Linked DNA regions of Homo sapiens. The protein of the gene in region 2 purifies or fractionates together with the protein of the main gene of each other region. This does not show direct contact. Each region holds a gene or a part of one and is shown on either strand. Other genes may lie near its edges. The genes, in order: DHX8, GPATCH8 and TMEM165.

The links.
Region 1: the proteins of GPATCH8 (region 2) and DHX8 purify together in Homo sapiens (co-immunoprecipitation; one large-scale study listed by IntAct). This does not show direct contact.
Region 3: the proteins of GPATCH8 (region 2) and TMEM165 purify together in Homo sapiens (affinity purification with mass spectrometry; one large-scale study listed by BioGRID and IntAct). This does not show direct contact.

The regions. Positions count from the first base shown.
Region 1 is NC_000017.11:43,518,337-43,521,990, forward strand, and holds part of DHX8 (ATP-dependent RNA helicase DHX8), read left to right. Parts: intron 1-1,793; coding exon 1,794-1,931; intron 1,932-2,414; coding exon 2,415-2,543; intron 2,544-3,032; coding exon 3,033-3,229; intron 3,230-3,654.
Region 2 is NC_000017.11:44,433,844-44,437,497, forward strand, and holds part of GPATCH8 (G patch domain-containing protein 8), read right to left. Parts: exon of another isoform or gene 2,703-3,654; coding exon 2,635-2,702; intron 1,309-2,634; coding exon 1,222-1,308; intron 1-1,221.
Region 3 is NC_000004.12:55,419,808-55,423,320, reverse strand, and holds part of TMEM165 (putative divalent cation/proton antiporter TMEM165 precursor), read right to left. Parts: intron 1-3,513. UniProt on the Homo sapiens protein: Putative divalent cation:proton antiporter that exchanges calcium or manganese ions for protons across the Golgi membrane.

The DNA.
Region 1 (3,654 bases), 920 kb from region 2:
CAGTCGTTTCTTTTATTCATCGAATTAGCTAATGTATTGAACACATGCTACATGCCAGGCATGTAGATTGCACTGTGGTGGTTTTGTGAACATAGTTTTTACCCAGTGTGAACTCTCTGAAAGCAGGGGCCATATCCTGGCCATCTTTATATCCCTCCCACCTAACATGGTATGAGATCCCTCATAGATATATAGTAGAAATGATGTATGCAAGAGACAGGACAAGTTGGTAGACTATATTATTATTATTATTATTGTAAAATACATAACAACATTTACTATTGTAAGCTTTTTAAAGTATACAATTCAGTGGCATTAAATACATTCAAGATGTTGTACAACCATCACCAACATCCATTTCCAGAACTTTTTCATTGTCCCAAACAGAAACTCTGTACCCATTAAACAGTAACTCCCCTTTCCCCCTTCCTCTATCCCTTGGTAACTACTCTTCTACTTTTTACCTCTCTGAATTTGTCTATTCTAGATAGCCTCATTTAAGTGGAATCATACAATATTCTTTTGTATCTGACCTGTTTCTCTTAGAATAATGTTTTCAAGATTTATTCATGTTATTTTCAAGGTTTATCCATTTATTTCATTCCTTTCTAAGGGTGAATAGTATTCTGTTGTATGTATATACCACATTTTGTTTATCCATTCATCAGCAGATGGACATTTGGATTGTTTCTACCTTTTGGCTATTATCAATAATGCTGCTGTGAACATTAGTGTGCAGGTATCTGTTTGAGTCTGCTTTCAGTTCTTTTGGATATATACCTAGAAGTGTAATTGCTGGGTCATGTGCTAATTCTGTATTTAGCCTATTAAGGAACCACCAAACTTTTCTACAGTGGCTGCAACATCTTACATTCCCACCAGCAATGCATGAGGTTTCTGATACCTCCCGTCCTCACTGACATTTGTTAGTTTCTGTTTTTTAAAAAAATTATAGCCATCCTAGTGGGTATGAAGTGATATTTCATTGTAGTTTTGATTTGCATTTCCCTAATTACTACTGATGTTGTGCATCTGTGCATCTTTTTATGTGCTTGTTGGCCATTTGTATATCTTCTTTGAAGAAATGTCTATTCAAGCTCTGTGCCTATTTTTTAAATTGAGTTGTTTGTCCTTTTGCTGTTGAGTTGTACATATTGTCATTTTGAGAGAGTGTTAGGGTTTTTTGTTTTTTTTTTTCTTGGAAGACGTTTTATCATGTTGCCTAGGCTGGTCTCAACTCCCGGACTCAAGCGATTCTCCCTCCTTGGCCTCCCAAACTGCTGAGATTACAGGTGTGAGCCACCATGCCCAACTGAGAGAATATTTTCAAAAAGTTTCCTGAGAAATTATGTGCTTTCCTTTGGGAGGCCGAGGCAGGCGGATCACTTGAGGTCAGGAGTTCAAGACCAGCCCAGCCAACATGGTAAAACGCCATCTCTACTGAAAATACAAAAATTAGCTGGGCATGATGGCGGGTGCCTATAATCCCAGCTACTTGGGATGCTGAGGCAGAAGAATCGCTTGAACGTAGGAGGTGGAGGTTGCAGTGAGCTGAGATTGGGCCACTGCACTCCAGCCTGGGTGACAGAGTGAGACTCTGTCTCAAGTATGTGCTTTCTATTATAATAGTCTGAGTTTTATGTGGCCCAGCCCTGGAAGTTACCGCCAGTCTCACCGGTGGCTTCCTAATTGCAATTGAAGAAATGGGAAATAAAGTAACAAGTAGCTTCCCCACATGCTGACACTGGCTAGACTGACCCTCTTATCACATGCCTTCTTCCTTTCTGTTCTAGGCCATGGGTATCAATGATCTGCTGTCCTTTGATTTCATGGATGCCCCACCTATGGAAACTTTGATCACAGCCATGGAGCAGCTGTACACACTGGGGGCCCTGGATGACGAGGGCCTGCTCACTCGCTTGGGCCGCCGGGTAAGGGACAGACTCAACTTCCTGTGCTTTTGGGAAGATTCCCTGGTCAGCCTTTCACATCCTTCGGTCTGTACAAAATCAGGCTGAGGCCGTGGATAAGCTTTGAGTAAAATTCTAAATGTTTGTTTTTAACCTGAATTTCTCCACTGTCACTTTAAACTGTTTCTTCTTTATACAAAAAGGTGTTCTGTTCATAATTTTGCCTGAGGATGTATTACTGAATGTAGCCTTAATTAGAAACGGCATCTGCAAAATTCTCATCTACCCCAACAGTAGTTATATGCTTGGTCACATACATCCCGTTGGAGTTTATTTGGGAAAAGAATAAACAACAGCATTCTTCTGATAGAGAAAGGCATCCCAAGGCATCATTATGCTTTGGGAAAATCTGTGTTGTTACCCACTCTGACCAAGGTCTTGCTCTGGTGAATCCAAATGTGTCTTCCACAGGGAAGCAGTTGTAGTCTTTTTTTGTCCCTCTAGATGGCAGAGTTCCCTCTGGAGCCAATGCTATGCAAAATGCTCATCATGTCTGTGCATCTGGGCTGCAGTGAGGAAATGCTGACCATTGTATCCATGCTGTCTGTGCAGAACGTCTTCTATAGGCCCAAGGTAGGAAGTTCAGATCCAAGTTTAGATGGGGGTGCCATGAAGTTGGGGTAGTTGGCCTGTTGCCATTCCAATGCTTGATGTGGACTTTTTTTTTTTTTTTTTTTTTTTTGAGATGGAGTCTCACTCTGTTGCCCAGGCTGGAGTGCAGTGGAATGATCTTGCAATCTCTACCTCCCGGGTTCAAGCAGTTCTCCTGCCTCAGCCTCCAGAGCAGCTGGGATTACAGGCGTGCGCCACCGTGTGCTGCTAATTTTTGTATTTTTAGTAGAGACAGGGTTGCACCATGTTGGCCAGGCTGGTCTCAAACTCCTGGCCTCAAGTGATCCTCTTGCCTCAGTTTCCCAAAATGCTGGGATTACAGGCCTGAGCCATCATGCCTAGCCTGATGTGGACACTTTTGATAGGGTCTTGTAGGGCTCCCTAGAATTGCTCCATGTTCAGTTAGTAGCTGTTGAGTCGGAAATGTTCCTCTGTCCCACTGCTTGGCAGGATAAACAAGCCCTTGCAGATCAGAAGAAGGCCAAATTCCACCAGACTGAAGGGGACCACCTCACCCTGCTAGCTGTGTACAACTCCTGGAAGAACAACAAGTTCTCCAACCCATGGTGCTATGAGAACTTTATCCAGGCTCGTTCCCTGCGCCGGGCCCAGGACATTCGCAAGCAGATGTTAGGCATAATGGACAGGTAAGCTGGAATCTGATGACTCTGCATGTTTGAGTTGAACCACCTTGAGTATCATGTCTTTTCATCTCTGTGTGTACCTATAAAGCTATAGGCACCTTTTCTCTTGCTCCTCACATAACCCTTTTCCTCCAGCTTTTCCATCTTTGTTATATTCCTTCTCCCCAAGTAAGGGTATGCCTGAGAATTACCTCAGATACCTAAGAGGAAGATTATCTGTTAGTTGTTGAAAAAAATGCTCTTTGTTTGCAACCCTCTGGAACATTATTACTGTGGAATTGAATACCTGTCTAAACAAAGTGTCTGTCTCTGAGTGCCTCCGTCTGCCCACTGTGTAGAGCTGCCTCTGTAGTACACTTAGGGCTGGAAGGAAGGTCCTGGTGACTACTCTGGGCACCCCAAGATGGATGTGTTGGGCACTGTCATTG
Region 2 (3,654 bases):
AGAAGAAAGAGTATGCCAGGCGCAGTGGCTCACGCCTGTAATCCCCACACTTTGGGAGGCCGAGGTGGGCAGATCACGTGAGGTAAGGAGTTCGAGACCAGCCTGGCCAACATGGTGAAACCCCATCTCTACCAAAAATTCAAAAAAATTAGCTGGCCGTGGTGGCTCATACCTGTAGTCCCAGCTACTCGGAGGCTAAGGCACGAGAATCACTTGAACCCGGGAGCAGTGAGCTTAGATCACACCACTGTACTCCAGCCTGGGCAACAGAGTGAGACTCAGTCTTTAAAAAAAATAATAATATTAATAATAATAATAAAATAAATAAATAAATAAATGATTTATTGGATTTAGCAAATAGAAGTGTTTGGTGGCCTTGAATAAAGTGGTTTGGTGAAAACTGCTAAAGTCAGTATAAATAGGCTGAAGAGTGAATAAAGAGAGAGGAAAGGAGAAGAAAAAGGGGAAAGAAAAAGGGGCAGGAAAAGAAGATGAGTTGGTTATATTATAGTTCTGGATAAAATAAAACACACAAAAATTTAATATATAGCTAAGCTAAGTTCAAAAACAAGAAAGGGGGTCAAGCGCGGTGACTTACGCCTGAAATCCCAGCAAACTGGGAAGCCGTGGCAGGCAGATCACCTGAGGCAAGGAGTTCAAGACCAGCCTGGCCAACATGGTGAAACCCCATCTCTACTAAAAACACAAAAATTAGGCTTGGCGTGGTGGCTCACGCCTGTAATCCCAGCACTTTGGGAGGCCGAGGCGGGTGGATCACAAGGTCAGGAGTTCGAGACCAGCCTGACCAACATGGTGAAACCCCGTCTCTACTGAGTGTTGGGGTTACAAGTGTGAGCCACTGTGTCTGGCCTCTGCAAGTGTTGGGGTTACAAGTGTGAGCCATTGTGTCTGGCCTCAAAGGACTTTTAACAATTTTTACTGCTACCACTACTTGAATACCTACTATGTAACAGGCATTGTGTTTTCAAACACTAATTCATGTAATCTTTCTAACACACTTTAGAAGTAGGTATTATTATCTCTATAGTTTATACAGAGCCAATAAATAGGAATGTAATAGAAATCTGAGATCTACTACTAATTACCACCAAATGTCAAACAAATGCTGTTAGCAACAGTGATGATTTTCAACAAAATTTGAGTTCTTTCTTATTCAGTGAGCACCTCCCCATCTCCCAATGAATAGCTTTGTTTAAATACCTTGTACTTTTGTCTCAGCTCTTCTGTGTCTTCTTTTTCTACTTCTAGGACACGGCGCCGTTCGGTAGCATCTTCAGCATAATCAAGCTTGACAAAAATAGATATGATTAGATTTAATTCCTAAAGTACCCCCAAGATTAGCTATGAAAAAGTTATTTGCACAACTACAGTATTATCTGAAAACAAAAAAAAATTGTAATTTTGCTTAGCTACTGCTTGCTTTATTGTCACCTCACAGAGAAAATCACATGCAAAATAGTTTGTTACTTTCAGGCTGGTAGTTTCCAAAAGGCACATTTGTTGAAAGTAGACTTCACTTCAATGTTAATTTTCTTTTCTTTCTTTCCTTTTTTTTTTTTTTTTTTTGAGATGGAGTTTCACTCTTGTTGCTCAGGCTGGGGTTTAATGGCATGATCTCCGCTCACTGCAACCTCTGCCTCCCGAGTTCAAGTGATTCTCCTGCCTCAGCCTCCTGAGTAGCTGGGATTACAGGTGCCCGCCACAATGCCCTGCTAATTTTTTTTGTATTTTCAGTAGAGATGGAGTTTCATCATGTTGGCCAGGCTGATCTTGAACTCCTCACCTCAGGTGATCTGCTTGTCTCGGCCTCCCACAGTGCTGGGATTACAGGCGTGAGCCACTGCGCCCAGCGACTCCTAATTCTTTGAAAATTGAGGCTGGGCACAGTGGCTCACACCTGTAATCCCAGCACTGTGGGAGGCCGAGGCGGGCGGGTCACCTGAGGTCAAGAGTTCAAGACCAGCCTGACCAATATGATGAAACCCTGTTTCTACTAAAAACACAAAAATTACCCGGGCATGGTGTCATGCGCCTGTAATCCCAGCTACTTAGAAGGCTGAGACAGGAGACAGGAGAATCCCTTGAACCCGGGAGACGGAGGTTGCAGTGAGCCGAGACTGCGCCATTGCACTCTAGCCTGGGCAACAAGAGCGAAACTCCATCTCAAAAAAAAAAAAAAAAAAAAAAAAAGGAATTAGGAGTCAATGAAGAAAATATTTTAGGCAATGAAAAGCAGGTATTACAGGTGACAGCCGTACCCAATTCTACAAAGGCAAAGCTTTTATCACAGCAACATTTTAAGAGCTGAGCAACACTGCCTACTGAAGCAAGTACCAAGGTCTGGATCTAAGTCTGATATTGCCTTGCTGTATAACCCTCGGCAAATCACTTAACTTCTTTATGTGCCAGTTAAAACAGCAGCTCTGTTTATATTCTATTTGTCTCAAAAGTAGCACTAAATGAAAATGTAAAATATATTTTTTAGTCATCCAAAGAAAAATATTAAAACTACATTTCATCTGATAAATGTATTCTTGCACAGACATCTGAATTTGGAATTAGTATTATTTCAAAATATCTCACAAAACTTATGAGTTAATGAGATCAATTTACCTCCATTTCCATGCGACCCATGCCCATGACATCATACTTGACAACGATTGGAATGGGATCTGTTCTCCCTGTAACAGGAACACATAATCAAGGTAAGGTGCAAAGCCAAACCAACAGCTCATTTTACACATTGGGTTTTGGGTGGTTAGAGATCTTGCCTTGGAGTGCAGAGACCAGAAAGCTACAGTGAACCAAACACAAGCCATTCTCACAGCTTACACTCAAGACCTTCCTTTCCTAGTTTAAACCCAATTAACCACCTTGGCTGACGTCCAGTTGGGATTAATTTCAAATTACTATGGCAAAATTACATTAATAAGTAATGCAAAGCACTTTTAAGCAATGGCATCAGGAGGTTTAAATTGTAAAACTTTAAAAATTCCTTTTAAGATCCCCAAATAACTTCCCATCAAGTATCACTTTACTCTGCCCACTGATATCCTCCTACACAACTTTTTAACCTAGTTTAAAAAAAAAAATCTCAACTGGCATGGTTAAATAGAAAAAGTACATTTTTAAACATGATGCAGTAAAACTTTATAATTACAACTCAGTATGTTGAATTTGTTTTCAAAAGATGCTTTACAATTTTTTTTGATGTTCCTCATAGACTAGGAGATGCTTTACAATTTAATGGGGCTGTGAAAAGTTTAAATAAAAAGAAACAATTAGTTGCCCTTAGAGAAAAGAATAGTTTTCCTTTTAATCTGGTGCTCTAAAGTCCCATTTCCTAGAGTGGATTTAACACTGGCTGCGAGGGTAACTGGTAAGCTGTGAAAAGGACTAGTTGCGAAGAAAATTGACTTTAAACTAATTGATCTATGCTGGATAATTTTTTTAATAAATATATATTTAATCCACTCATAACCAGCCAAACAAAGCAAAATGGGGCAGACAAGCACTTTACTACCACAGCTGTTTTACATCACAACCTGCGCTTTTTATTGTGATGTAAGCCCACTGAAAAGAGGACTTACCTTATCCGTTGTACACCTTTAGTGAAAAAACACAATGTTTACT
Region 3 (3,513 bases), on a different chromosome or scaffold from region 2:
ACTGTAGGCAAAGAGCAGGTGAATTTGAGAGAAATTAAGAAGGCAAAATTAACATACCTCCATGATAAATGAATGATAGGCTTTATGGAAAAATATCAGAGCCAAGCAGAGTGGAGCCAGCCACTCAGGAGGCTAAGGCAGAAGGATCACTTGAGGCCAGGAGTTCAAGGCTAGCCTGAGCAGTACAGCGAGATCCCGTCTCTTAAAAATAAAATAATGGTGCAGTGGTTCATGCATGTAGTTCCAGCTATTCAGGAGGCTGAGGTGAGAGGATCACTTGAGCCTGAGTTTGAAGCTACAGTGAGTTATGATCACACTACTATGCTACAAATTCCATCCTGGGTGACAAAGCAAGACTCCATCTCTTATTAAAAAAAGAAAAATAGGCTGGGTGCAGTGGCTCACGCCTGTAATGCCAGCACTTTGGGAGGCCGAGGAGGGTGGATCACGAGGTCAGGAGACTGAAACATGGTGAAATGCTGTCTCTACTAAAAATACAAAAAATTAGCCGGGTGTGGTGGCAGGCACCTGTAGTCCCAACTACTGGGCAGGCTGAGGCAGGAGAATTGGCTTGAATCCAGGAGGCTGAGGTTGCAGTGAGCTGAGATCGTGCCACTGCACTCCACCCTGGGTGACAGAGTGAGACTCCATCTCAAAAAAAAAATAAATAAATAAAGCATGACACCCAAGTTTCTCTCCCACAATTGATGAACTATGTATGGTAAGACCAATGTGATTTTTAAAGTTAAGAGTCAGTTGAATCAGGGTGGGTGGATGGTTCACACATGTAATCTCACCACTTTGGGAGGCCGAGGCAGGCAGATCACCTGAGGTTGGGAGTTTGAGACCAACCTGGACAACATGGTGAAACCCCATCTTTACTAAAAATACAAAAACTAGCCAGACTTGGTGGCACATGTCTCTAATCCTAGCTACTCGGGAGGCTGAGGCAGAAGAATCGCTTGGACCCAGGAAGCAGAGGTTGCAGCAAGCCAAGATTGTGCCACTGTACTCCAGCCTGGGTGACAGAGCAAGACTCTCAAAAAAAAGAGTCAATAAACCTGTTACAGAGAAAGCAGAAAGAGAAGAATGTTGATAGCATAATCATGAGGGACAAAGGCAGCATTCAAGGAAGGACAGAGAAAGAAGGGTCCACAGGAGAAAGCAAGTGAGGTGGCCAGCCAATCACCTCCTGTAAGGACCAACGGAGGCATCATGCAAGGCCACAGGGAGCTCAAAGCACAACAACATTCCTGGTGAGGCCAGAAACTGGGTTCCCATGGGCTAAGTATGCAAGGAGAACAGAGCCAAGGCTTATTCCCATCACAGCCAAGTCCTCTGACACTGCAGGAGGGCAAGAGTTGGATTTGCGATGTACAATTGAGAAAAGGGGCTTTTTTTTTTTCTTTTTAAAGGATGAGAAAAAATTGGTACACACGAACAATGCTCACAAAACGGCTGGGAGAAAGGCAAAATCTAAGCATATTATAAGGGTGGGATTCAGAATACAGGAGGGCAGAGGGGGCTGCCACTGTGATGGGTGGGAATGAAGAAAGGGAACTGCTACTGCTCTGAAGGAGAAGGGAAAGCCCGCTGTCGGGCAGTGTGTGTGCAGAGACAGGAAACTGGCTGAAGCATCCACTGTGAAGAATGGAAGACTGGGACTACATTTCCCAAATTCTACTTGTGTATTATAAACTGCTACCCATGAAGATGGTTCTATTTGAAAGTAATATTTAGGCCGGGCGTAATCTCAGCACTTTGGGAGGCCAAGGTGGTCAGATTGCATGAACTCAGGAGTTCGAGACCAGCCTCTGCAACATGGCAAAACCCTGTCTCTACAAAAAATACAAAATTAGCCAGGCATGGTGGTGGGAACCTGTAGTCCCAGACTCAGAAGGCTGAGGTGGGAGGATGGCTTGAGCCCAGGAGGTGGAGGTTGAGGTGAGCTGAGATTGTGCCACTGCACTCCAGCCTGGTTGACAGAGCCAGACCCTGTCTCAAAAAAAAAAAAAAAAAAAAAGAAAGAAAGAAAATATTTAAAAATTCACTAGATTAAGTAAAATAAACTAGTATTTAACTAGTTCCTTTAATATAGGACTTTCCAGTCTTTATTTGTATACTGAGTCGTCTTTTTTTTTTTTTTTTTTTTTTGAGATGGAATCTAGCTCTGTCGACCAGAGTGGAGTGCAGTGGCGCGATCTCGGCTCACCCGGGTTCAAGAGATTCTCCTGTCTCAGCCTCCCGAGTAGCTGGGACTACAGGCGTGGGCCACCATGCCTGGATAATTTTTGTATTTTTCACCATGTTGGCCAGGCTGGTCTCGAGCTCCTGACCTCAGGTGATTTGCCTGCCTCAGCCTCCCAAAGTGCTGGGATTAAACGCGTGAGCCACCACACCTGGCCCAAGTCTTAAAAAGAAAAAACAAAACGACAGGGATATATTATTTGCCAAATTTGACTCTGAATTTCTTCCTTCCCCCTCACCCTTTTTTGGCCTAGAACCAATTCAAGTCTCAAAGGACACTAGGATTATGTGAAATCCAATTTGGGAACATTAAATCATGTTGGAAGCAAAGATAAAACTGCATACTAAAATGGCCTGAACTAGACAACTGCATGGTTCATAAGAAAAATTACCAACAAAAATAGGAATACTAAGGGAACAGGAAAAGACACAACATTTCTGCCATTTAAGAGCTCATTAAATATCCCCGCAGGGCAGTTAGTATGGAAGTGTGGCTAACACTGAATGTGCCATGTGGGGGACCATGCTAGATACCCTGCGTGTGTTATTTCATCTGCAAACCGATCCACAAAGCAGGTAATCCCCATTTTTGGATGAGAAAATGCAGGGAAGTGCAGTAATGTGATTTTACAGCAAGAGACTCAAAACCCAGTCAGCACGTGCCATACTGCTAGAATGGACCAGGGTGTCTCGTAGGTAGGGAGCCTCAAGCCTTTCACACGTCACTCTATGGCATAGAGTCTATGCCACAGAGTAGAGAGAAAAACGCAGTGATTCTGCTGTCATGATAACTCACCCTGGTAGAATCACTACCACCTCAACAAAATGGTTACTTACTATTGAGTCCCAACTCTGGCAATCTGAGAGCCAATAAAAGGCTAGAAATCAAGAAGAATATAGGGTACAGCCATTAAATAAATAAATAAAATAAATAAATAAATAAATATATATGTATATATATATATATTTTTTTTTCTTAAGATAGTGTCTCACTCTGTCACCTAGGCTGGAGAGCAGTGGCACCATCTCGGCTCACTGCAACCTCTGCCTCCCGGTTTCAAGTGATTCTCCTGCCTCAGCCTCTCTAGCAGCTAGGATTACAGGCACCCGCTACCACGCCCAGCTAATTAAAGTGATATTTTTAAAGAAAGTTTGTTTTATGAGAATCAAATGAAAATCAGAGTTCCATTTTTTTTCCCCAAAATACAGCATTTTTGAGGCTTCCCTGACAAAATAGCCTTTCCCATCTATCTTAGTCCTGGCCTT